Linked DNA regions of Homo sapiens: region 2 is linked to region 1. Evidence: fine-mapped expression QTL. A gene starts in region 1. The other region holds a variant in brackets. All regions are shown on one strand. Distances are from middle to middle. Region 1 holds the start of MMS22L (MMS22 like, DNA repair protein). Region 2 overlaps MMS22L (MMS22 like, DNA repair protein).

Region 1 (5,386 bases):
AGAAAGTTCTCTGGGATTAGGATTTTGATTGGCAGTCCTTTGAAGCCATAGATAAACTTCAGAAGAACTTTTAATAATATTGAGTCTTCCAATTTATGATTATGCTATCTCATTCTATTTACTTGAATATTCTTGAATTTTTTTCAGCAATATTTTGGAATCCTTGGCAAACAAAATCTGACGCATATTTTGTTAAATTTAAACCTTGTTTATGTCATTAAATGGTGTTGTTTTCTAAACTCTAATTTTCAAATTGTCTTTTCATGTCTATAAAATACAATTAATTTTTGTGTGTCACTGAACCCCGCCACCTTGCTGAACTCATAGTTTTTATATATATTTGTAGAGATTTTTTTAGGATTTTCTATATGAATAATTATGTCATCTGAAAATCAAGACAGTTTTACTTCTTCTTATTCAATCTATATGACATTTATTTCTTCATCTTCCTTATTGCATTGACTAGTTACCTCCAGTAAAATGTTGAGAGAAGTGGAAAAAGTGGACATCATTGCCTTTTTCTCAATCTTAGGAAAAGAACATACATTTTTATAACTAAGTATGATATTAATAGCAGGTTTGTCATAGATATCACATATAAGGTAGGGAGTTTTCTTCCATTCTTAGTTGGCAGAGAGTTTTTATCATGAATAGATGTTGAATTTATCAAGTGATCTTTCAGTGTCTATTGAGATGACAGTTTTTCTTTTTATAGACTTGATATAATGAACTGATTACTTGTAGAAATTTGAATAACCTTGCATTCCTAACATGAATCTAATTTTCTTGTCATATGTCATCCTTTTTGTTTGTTTGTTCTGAGGCGGAGTCTTGTTCTGGAGTACAGTGGCGCGATCTCGGCTCACTGCAACCTCCCCATGCCGGGTTCAAGCGATTCTCCTGCCTCAGCCTCCTGTGTAGCTGGGACTACAGGCACATGGCGCCATACCCGGCTAATTTTTGTATTTTTAGTAGAGACGAGGTTTCACCATGTTGGCCAGGCTGGTCTTGAACTCCTGACCTCAAGTGATCCACCCGCCTTGGTCTCCCAAAGTGCTGGGATTACAGGCGTGAGCCACTGCACCTTGCCATCATATGTCATCCTTTTTATGTACTGCTGGATTTTGCTTGCTAACATTTCTGCTTTTATGTTTGCATGTGATATTGTATTGTAATTGTCTTTTGTCAGGTTTCGATACCAGTGTGGTGCTAGCCTCATAAAACAAGCATCCAATCTCCTAATTTCTCTAAGAGTTAGTATAGAATTGGTATTACTCCTTCCTTAAATGTTTGGGAGAATTTAATAGTAAGGCCATTTGGCCTGGAGAGTGTTTGTTTGTTTTGTTGCTTTTGAGAAATGGTGTTGCTCTGTTGTCCAGGCTGGAGTACAATGGCACACTCACAGTTCACTGCAGCCTCGAACTCTCCAGCTCAAGTGATCCTCTCACCTCAGCCTCCCTAAGTAGTTGGGACTACAGATGAGCACCACCACGCCTGGCTAATATTTGTATTTTTTTTGTGGAGACAAGGGACAGGGTTTCACCATGTTGCCCAGGCTGGTCTGGAACTCCTGGTCTCAAGGGATCCACCTACTTCAGCCTCCCAAAGCCACTGTGCCTGCCCTGGCCTGAAGTTTTCTTGTAAGAAGTGGTGTGTGTGTGTGTGTGTGTGTGTGTGTGTGTGTGTGTGTGCAGAGAGAGAGGAGGGAGGCTTAACCAAAGATTCTGAGTACTACGATAAATACAGAGATACTCAAATTTTCTTCTTTTGTTGATTTTTGACAGTTTGCGTCTTTTAAGGAATTTGTCCATTTCACCTATGCTTATTGGCATAAAAATGTTCATAATGTTCTTTTAATATCCTTGTCCTTTTAATGACTAAATTTCATAGTGATGAAACCTTTTTAATTCCTGATACTGATAATTTGTTTATTTTCTTTATCAGTTTGGGTAGGGGGGTTATCAATTATATTGCTCTTTTAGAAAAACAACTTTTGCATGTATTTCCTTCCATTTATTTCATCCCATTTATTTCTACTATTTATCATTTCATTCATTTTGCTTGCTTTGGTTTCAATATGCTGGGGGTTTTTTCTAGTTACTTAAGACAAAAGTTTATTGAATTGAGTTCTTCTTTTTAATGTAAGCAGGTACTGTTACAAATTTTAGTGTTTTCATTTTAATTTAATTCAACGTATTTTCTAATTTTCCTGTGATTTTTCCTGATTCACAGGTTAGTTAGAAGTATGATTCTTAATTTCCAAATATTTAGAGTATTTCAAGTATCTACTTTATTTCTAGTTTAATGCCATTATGATCAGACTATACACTTTGTACGATTTAAATCTTTTTAAAGTTGATGACATTTGTTTTATGGCTCGGAATATGGTATCGCTTAGTGAATGTTTCATGTGCACTTGACAGGAGTGTGTATTCTGCTATTGTTGGGTTGGTCACCTATAAACGTCAATTAGGTCAAGTTGGTTAGTGCTTTCCAAGTTTTCCATATCCATACTAATTTTCTGTCTACTTGTTCCATCTGTTACAGAGAAAATTAATTGTTGCACTTGCCTGCCTCACAGTCCATGGACAAAAGGCATCTGCATTCTAACAAGAGTTGCTGGCCCCAGAGCGGGAAGAGGGGACGGCGCGACTGTGGGTGTGAACGAGGCACTCACTTCGCACTCACTGGAGTAAATATCTTCTCTTTGGTCCGGCCAGAGGATAAACCCATAGTCCTTAAGTCCTCTCCTCCGCCTCAGCAGCAGTTCTGTTTTTTTTTTTTTACCAGGCCCCGCCTTTCAGCCGAACGCACCAATTAAAGGTACAAAAAAAAAAGTTTCTCAGTACCTCGTCCCGGACTGACGGACTCTCGCGAGAATTCGTGGGGCTCCGACTGTTTCCGCGCAGATATCGCGAGGCGATTGGTAGCCGGGGGAGGGCTGCGCCGTGGCCCCGCCTTTCCGGAGCGCGGGCGCGCGGTGGCGGGAATTTCGCCTGTTTGCGGTTTAGACCCCAAAGATTCCTGTTGGTGGTCTGGGTCACAGGAGGCAGGTTTCGGGAGCTGGAAATGTGAGCGGGTACGACAGGCACCGCGGGTAACCGACGCCCCGGGTCCTTGCTGCAGCCGGGTACGCGGGATACCGGCACCCCGCCTTCTCCGCCCGAGTGCTGCCAGGCGTGGGCCTGGTGGGTCTCGCCTCCTCCTTGGAGGGTCGGGGTTGGCCCTAGGGGTTGCTTTCCTAATTTCCACCCCGAGCCGGGGAGGGAGCGTTCTCCACCCTGCTGCTGGGAAACGGGCGGAGAGTGGTTTAGAAACGTTGCGGAGGGCGCAGTTCTAGGCAAGCCCGGGACGCTATGTCCTGCAGACATTTCTTTGCTTTTCACCTTGTCCTGGGCTGCAGAGCCCGACTTAGTGGCCGGATTTCGAGGTCCCTGCCACAGCCAGTTGGTTGTGCATTTTGTCTTAAGTTCTGACAGCCTTGATGGACGGAGGGCGAGGGGGAATTGGGAATTTGGCCTCTGGGTTTGTTCGTTTGTTTTTCCTTCCTGCTGGCGGACGTCTTGAGAACTTTCTGAAGTAATCCCCACTCTCTCGGCCCCACCCCCCCCCCCCCAACAGGAATCTCTTCACACCTTCTCTTTGGAGCCCTTAATGATACGACGAACCCCAAGTGTTTCAGAACATGAAGTAAACAATGGAGAACTGTTCTGCTGCATCGACGTTCCTGACTGACAGCTTAGAGCTGGAGCTGGGGACGGAATGGTGCAAACCTCCTTACTTTTCTTGTGCTGTTGACAACAGAGGAGGAGGAAAACATTTTTCTGGAGAATCCTACCTCTGCAGCGGAGCCCTTAAGCGGTAGGTAAAACTCAGAGACATTTTCCCTCATCTGATTATTCACCAGTTTTTTAGGAATGTTAGTTATTTCAGCCCATTAAACTTTGGTGTTCACCAAGTCGTGTTTTATAAATCAGCTTAGTATATCATAAGGGTACAAATGATTATCAGTTCTGCTGGCTTCTTGGTAAGGGCATATCTAAAGTATTTGGGGTATTAGGGAAAACTTCCTTGGTAACTGATGTTCCCTTACTGTAGGGAGCTGGGCACTAATTTTTCTTCTACTTAAAATGAATTCCTAACTATCTGAGCCTTTTGCAGTAGTATTTCCTTCTAAAGAGTGTGATAATATTCTAGAGCTTTCCAGTAATATTTAAGAGAGACAAACATTTTTTATTGCCCCTGTTCCTTCTAATCCTACCTGCACATATAGAAGTGTATAGACTTATTTTGCCTTGGGCAGGTACATATATATTACAGTAAAACTGTTCTTGAAATATTTTGGTAATACCTGCTGAGGCAGTTTCAGTGAGGAAACTATTTTTGTTGACCTTATAGTTGTACCTTGTTAGAAATCTTAAATAGAATACTCAACTTCATTAGTTGGATACTATTCTCCAGACATGGCTCAGAATAACTGTTAGCAGTTTTAAAATTAAATGTCCCCTCAAAGGATGAAATTCTACAACTGAAGACTACTGGTGAAGACAGGCAGAAATATGTTTTTTAGAATTCTTGTTGATTTTTCCTCTTAAGTTACATTACACTTTAGTCGTACATTTTATCAATATAGAAGATTGACGTTTTAATACAGTCTAGCTATTGTAATCTTGAATGTGTAAAGTACCAAGGCATTTTCTGACTTTTTATACATGTCATGTATAATATGGATTCAAATAATGTAAAGAAAAGAGCCGTCGTATTATGGTACTTAGTATACTTTTTATGAGATTGAAACAATTTTCATTTCAGATTGATTTTGAATCTTGACCCTTTACCAACTAATTTTGAAGAAGATACCTTGGAAATATTTGGCATTCAGTGGGTTACTGAAACAGCATTAGTGAATTCATCTAGAGAACTCTTTCATTTATTCAGGTATTTCTTCGTTATAACTTTCTGTGAGTGTAGGTGTTGTTCACTTTTGTAAATTACGTTGTTGGGTGGCTTCTAATACTGATATTACAAAAGACCAGAGGAATTGTGCTGGTTGCTCACTTGATTATCTTACCAGTAACAATAATCAAGCAGCAATGCCTGATGAGTAATGGTTTTAATGAGTTGCGTTTTCAGAATCTTTATTCTTTGCATTTGACACATGTATTGACAAATATTTAAGGCTTTGAACTATAATTTTTAGAAGAAAATTAAAATATTTTTGTTGTGCAATAGCCATAGTCTTTCAGTGATCTTTAGAGTATGGTCTTAACAAATAAATTGTTTAGACTGTGTAATAGAAATATTAATTATTTGGACAACATTTAAAATTTTTTTAATGAAAAATTTTAAGCATACACAAAATAATAATATAATGAACATCCATATA
Region 2 (5,386 bases), 140 kb after region 1:
TATGGTAGCAAAGATTTTAAAATGGTATACCTATATAGGGCACTTACCGTGAGTGCAGCTTGCAGGACTAGTAGTTGCTCTGGGTGGGTCGGCGAGTGAGTGGTGATAAATGTGAAGGCCTAGGCCATTACTGTACACTATTGTAGTAGACATTATAAACATAATACATTTAGAGTACATTAGTTATTTCTAAAATTTTTAGTTTTTCAATAATACATTAACCTTAGCTTACTCTTTTTTACCTTTTAAACTTTTTCTTTTTTTAACTTTTTTACTCTTGTAAAAAAGCTTAACACACACATTGTATAGCTGTACAAAAATATTTTCTTTCTTTATATTCTTGAATAAGCTTTTTTCTATTTTTAAATTATTTTTTATTTTTAAACTATTTTGTAAAAAATGAAGACACACACGCATTAGCCTGAGCCTACACAGGGTCAGGATGATCAACATCACTGTCTTCCACCTCTACATCTTACTTCACTGGAAGGTCTTCAGGGTCAGTAACGCACATGGAGCTGTCGTCTCCTGCAATAAGGAAGCCTTCTTCTGGAATACCTCCTGAAGGACCTGCCTGAGTCTGTTTTACAGTTAACTTTTATTTTTATAAGTATAAAGAGGAGTACACTCTAAAATAACAATAAAAAGTAAAGTATAGTAAATACATAAACCAGTAACATTCTTTCTTATTATCAAGTATTATATACTATGTATAGTTGTGTGTGCTAGACTTTTATATGACTGACAGTACAATAGGTTTGTTTATACCTGCATCACCACAAACAACACGAGTAAGGCATTACACTAAGACATTACAATGGCTACAACATCACCAGGCATTAGGAATTTTTCAGTACCATTATAATCTTAATGGGATCCATCATTGACCAAAATGCAGCCCATCATTGACCAAAATGTTTTTAATGTAGTGCATGACTATAATCATATGCATGTGTGTCTGTTTATCTGTACAAATACACACTCTAATGAATATGCATATTCCAATTTTTAGACAAAAATTTTTTATTAAACAATATATGAGATCTTTCTTGAAGACATGACTATGTTGATTATAGCTTTAGCTAACTAATGGAATCCATTTTTTCAATGCCATTTCATATAAAAGGCAGGGGGTGCGGACTGGAGAGATCATCCTTGTAAAGCTTTTGTATGCCAGAATGGAACATCTCCTTTCTTCTGCATGGTGACTTGGCTAGCCTCCTGTGGTTTTCTAAGGAGAGAAGATTGAATCACTTCAAATTGTAGCTTGAAGAAATGGTGTTTATTGTCATGTCACAAAACAAGCTCATGCACAGACATGTCTCACATCTGGCTTCTCTGAGCAGTCTTCAAATTTGAGTGAAAAAACTAGAGAGGCTGTGTGTGAACCACCCTAATGCAGTATGTTGTTAAAACAAATATTCTGGCCTACTACCTTGTGTGGTTATGCAGGCCCATAAGAAGTTTGGTTCTAAAGATTCTGAACAGAACAGGTATTTAGACTAGTGAGATAACTACTAGGCACAATAAATCATCTAAAACACCTTCCAAATACAGGGAAGTACTAGAGAATGTAGGAGGAGAAACAATATTTTATTTTCAAACTTTGTTACTTATAAGAAGTTAAAAGAAGAAAATGGGATATATACTGAAATTGCTACACAGGTCTATTTTATGGTTACAGAATTTTTGTTTTAATACTTACGCTTGTGATACAAGTCTTCCCATTGTAATCATACCATCATTGTCCTTAAATAATATTCCATGAATGCATTTTATTACCCGTGAGCATTATAATATTTCGGAAGGTTAATGAACTTTTACATGTCATTTTTAGCACACATTTTATATATAAAAATCATACTTTAATACATCTTAACATCTAGGTTTACTCACAATAGATATAAAGCATTACTTTTTAAGAAGTGTTGTGCTAAGCCTGCTGGATGGATGGCTGAATAGATGGATGGATGGATGATGGGCAGACTTAATTTGTAAATACTGAAATGAAAAATAATGAAAATGTTAATATATTTGCTTTCTTTTCTTTTTTCTTAAACAGGGAAGCCTATAGCAAACTTTTGTCTCACCTTGGACAGATGGGACAAGATGAGATGCAGAGACTGGAAAATGATAATACTTAATATATTTTGTGATTCATCCTGTCTATTAATTATCAGTATCTAAAGCCACATTGTTCCACTCTAATTCCTACTTTTAATTAATTGTATAATGTTCTGTTTAAAATAATTTCTAGGATTTTTTTTCCTTTTATATCTGTAAGTAAAAAATGTATAAATAAGGAACTGAAGGTTAATTAGCAACTGTGTAATAGGATCCTTGGAACTTTTTACAAAACTGCATTCTACCTTGATGAAATTTTAGTTAAACTAAATTAAAGAAACATTTTCTGAGAGTGTTTTCTGTGTGTGAGTATTAAGCAGATACTTCATCCATAGACTTTTTGTTGTAGTATGACTTCCTGCCTCCCTGCCTTGTGACTGATTTGTCATGTTTATTTTTTATTTTTACAATAATAGTTATGTTTTAAAATGATACTTTTTCAAAGTACCTGGCTACCCTATACTGTGTTTTTGGTGGGGGAAAGGTGTTGGGAAATGTGACTGTGTATTTGTTTTTCTTTTTTATATGTGTGAGGCAAGTTAACAAAGAAAACCCTTACAAAGCACACTTAACTGTGTTAGGAATGAGACTGAATCTGGCTAAAGGATTATACAGCTGATATCCAAAAAGAAGTGTAAACATGCCAACAGGGTTTATATTTAGGTTCCAAGAGTTGCCAAATTTTTTTTTT[A/TA]TTCATCCTTTCTTTTGGAGTTGTCATTAAAAAAAAAATCATATCAGGAGGAGGAAATAAAGGAGACTTTAAGAGGAGAGTAAATAAAAATATTCTAGAAAAGTAACAATAGTAGTGGTCTGAGAAGTCAGCTGATCCATCTTCTTGCTCTTTAGCCAGAGCTTCTTATAACTTAGCATTTTATCCAAGAAACCTGTTTAGTTTCCTTTAACAACATTGTTTCTCAACTTTTGAACTCTTAACTCATCCAGATTGTTTTACCAGTTGGAGCTTGTCCTTGACTCCTTTTCCTATTGAGCATTATTTGGTTGAAAGAGCTCCAGTCCTAGTTTTGGGAACCCACCTGGGTCTCAAACTCAGCTTTGCTTTATGATCTTGAGCTAGTTACGTAACCTTTCTCAGTCTAGTTTCTTCATGGAGAAGAAAAGAAGAATCCCTTTACTATTTGACAGTGTTGTTGTGAGAATCAATGGGATAATGTACGTGAAAATATTTGGTGGCCCAAATTCTGTTGGGAAATGTACAGACACGATTAGTTTATTACTCGTGCACAATTAAGGCAAAGAACACCTCTCAATTTTATCTTTCTCTAATGATATGTCCCAGATGAATGATCCCACTTTCCAATGTTTTCTTACATCATGTTTTCTAACTTTGAAGTACTTTGTTTCCTTCTTGGGATTATAGTCTTTATCATGGTTCTACTCTTCCTTCAAGAAAACATTTCAACCCTTCTCTGGCTCAAGGAGTATCTTTAAAAATGAAATACTTTGCAATCAGTATTCTGTAGTTAATAGCGTTCTCTTAATTATAATCTGTGAAATCCAAAGGAGTGTCTGTTATTTTCATAACATATAAATGGTCCTTCTCTCAAATCAGCTTCATCAAAGGGAATAAATGAAAGCTTAAGGCTGTTTAATAGACTTCATAACACTGAATTTCTTTTCATCATGATAGTGACTTACTAAACAAATAATGTATGGCTTGGAAAGTTCCAGCAGTCACTAAGGAGTTTTATCTATTTAAGGTGATGCCTTTAAAGAGGTTATTTATGTGTATATGTGTTTTTGTGTGTGTGTGTGTGTGTGTGTGTGTGTGTGTGTGTGTGTGGGTTTTTTTTTTCCAAAGGAGATTGATAAAGATACCTTTGAGAATCTTGCTCCTTAGAGTATGAAAACGTTTAAAGGATAGGAAAAGCTGCTACTGAATCATGCTTTAGGACATATATCTATAGATACTAAGAATAACTAAAATTTGTACTTAAGAATGGTAACAACAAAGTGTGTAACAATATGTGTGTGTATTATATGTTTTGTATTTATGTATAAGTAACTTTTTTTAAAGCTTTTTTTTAAATTGAAAAAAGAAGAAAATTTATGGCTCAGTTCCTTTTTTTTAAAATCTTCACTGATCCTTCACTTATTACTACAATCTTGCCCTCTTTCATTCCCAGACTTGGAGTCCCTTATACCTGCTTCTTTAATAGCCACTTTCCCTAAATACCCTGTAATTTCTGAGGCTGCTGCTTCTACCAGTGTAATACAAGCCATTGTCTTTTGGTCAAATCTGAGTTTGTTCTCCTTTCTCATGTTCTTTGTCCTCTCTGTGACAATTGTATTTTCTTTTATCTTCCCATCATTTCCACAATGGTACTGCTCCTTCCTACATATACAGTTGACCCTTGAGCAACACAAGTTTGAACTGTGCAGGTCCACTTATATGTGGATCTAAAATACAGTATTTGTGGGATGCAAAATCTGAGTATATGGAGGACCAACTTTTTGTAGAGGCAGGTTCCTCAGGGTTAACTGCAGGACTTGAGTAAGTGCAGATTATGGTATGCACAGGGGATCCTGGAACCAGTCCCCAGACCAAAAATGACCACTGTATCTTGAGAGCACCTTCATGGTCTTCTTTCCTGTCCCCAGTCGTAAGATACGACCCTTCATCTGCTTTGTCTCAACATTCTGTTAGTGGTGAACTGATAACTCCAGCTTTTCTCTCTCTTTTTTTTTTTTTTTTTTTTTTTGTTGTTGTTGTTGTTGTTGTTTTGAGGCAGAGTCTTGCTCTGTCGCCCAGGCTGGAGTGCAGTGGCACGATCTCGGCTCACTGCAAGCTCTGCCTCCCGGGTTCACGCCATTCTCCTGCCTCAGCCTCCCAAGTAGCTGGGACTACAGGTGCCCGCCACCACGCCCGGCTAATTTTTTTTGTATTTTTAGTAGAGACGGGGTTTCACCATGTTGGGCTCGATCTCCTGACCTCATGATCCGCCCGCCTCGGCCTCCCAAAGTGCTGGGATTACAGGCGTGATGAGCCACCTAGTGCTAATTCATCTCTAAACCTCTGTAGTTGGAGTCTCCTGAAATCTCAGACTACCTCCTGCTTTCATTTTCTACCCAGGGAATACACTATTGTCCTAAGTTATTTAGCCTTGAAATGTCAGAGGCATTTTAGGTTCTTCATGTTTCTCCCACTTTCAGTTGATTACCATTACAGGATCTTAGGCTTCTTTTTATCTTTTTGCAGTGCCTTGCATCCACTGGTTGTTTGTTTTTTCTGTTGGGCACTACT

Evidence for each region. PIP is the estimated chance that this variant, and not a neighbour inherited with it, causes the effect. A credible set is the group of variants that fine-mapping cannot tell apart.
Region 2: its variant is the best candidate, but not a certain one, in a credible set for the expression of MMS22L in whole blood (INTERVAL, PIP 0.52).

Annotation. Positions count from the first base shown.
Region 1 is chr6:97,280,789-97,286,174 of GRCh38, reverse strand. It overlaps MMS22L (MMS22 like, DNA repair protein), which reads left to right and starts at 2,959. Exons shown (of 25, transcript NM_001350599.2): 1 at 2,959-3,079; 2 at 3,622-3,861; 3 at 4,813-4,938. The coding sequence starts at 3,698. RefSeq lists enhancers at 2,683-2,742, 3,123-3,382.
Region 2 is chr6:97,143,564-97,148,949 of GRCh38, reverse strand. It overlaps MMS22L (MMS22 like, DNA repair protein), which reads left to right. Exons shown (of 25, transcript NM_001350599.2): 25 at 2,063-5,386. The coding sequence ends at 2,144. Among named protein-coding and RNA genes, the nearest start is that of MMS22L, 140 kb to the left of the region's middle. The variant A/TA (reference allele first, on the strand shown) is at 2,816.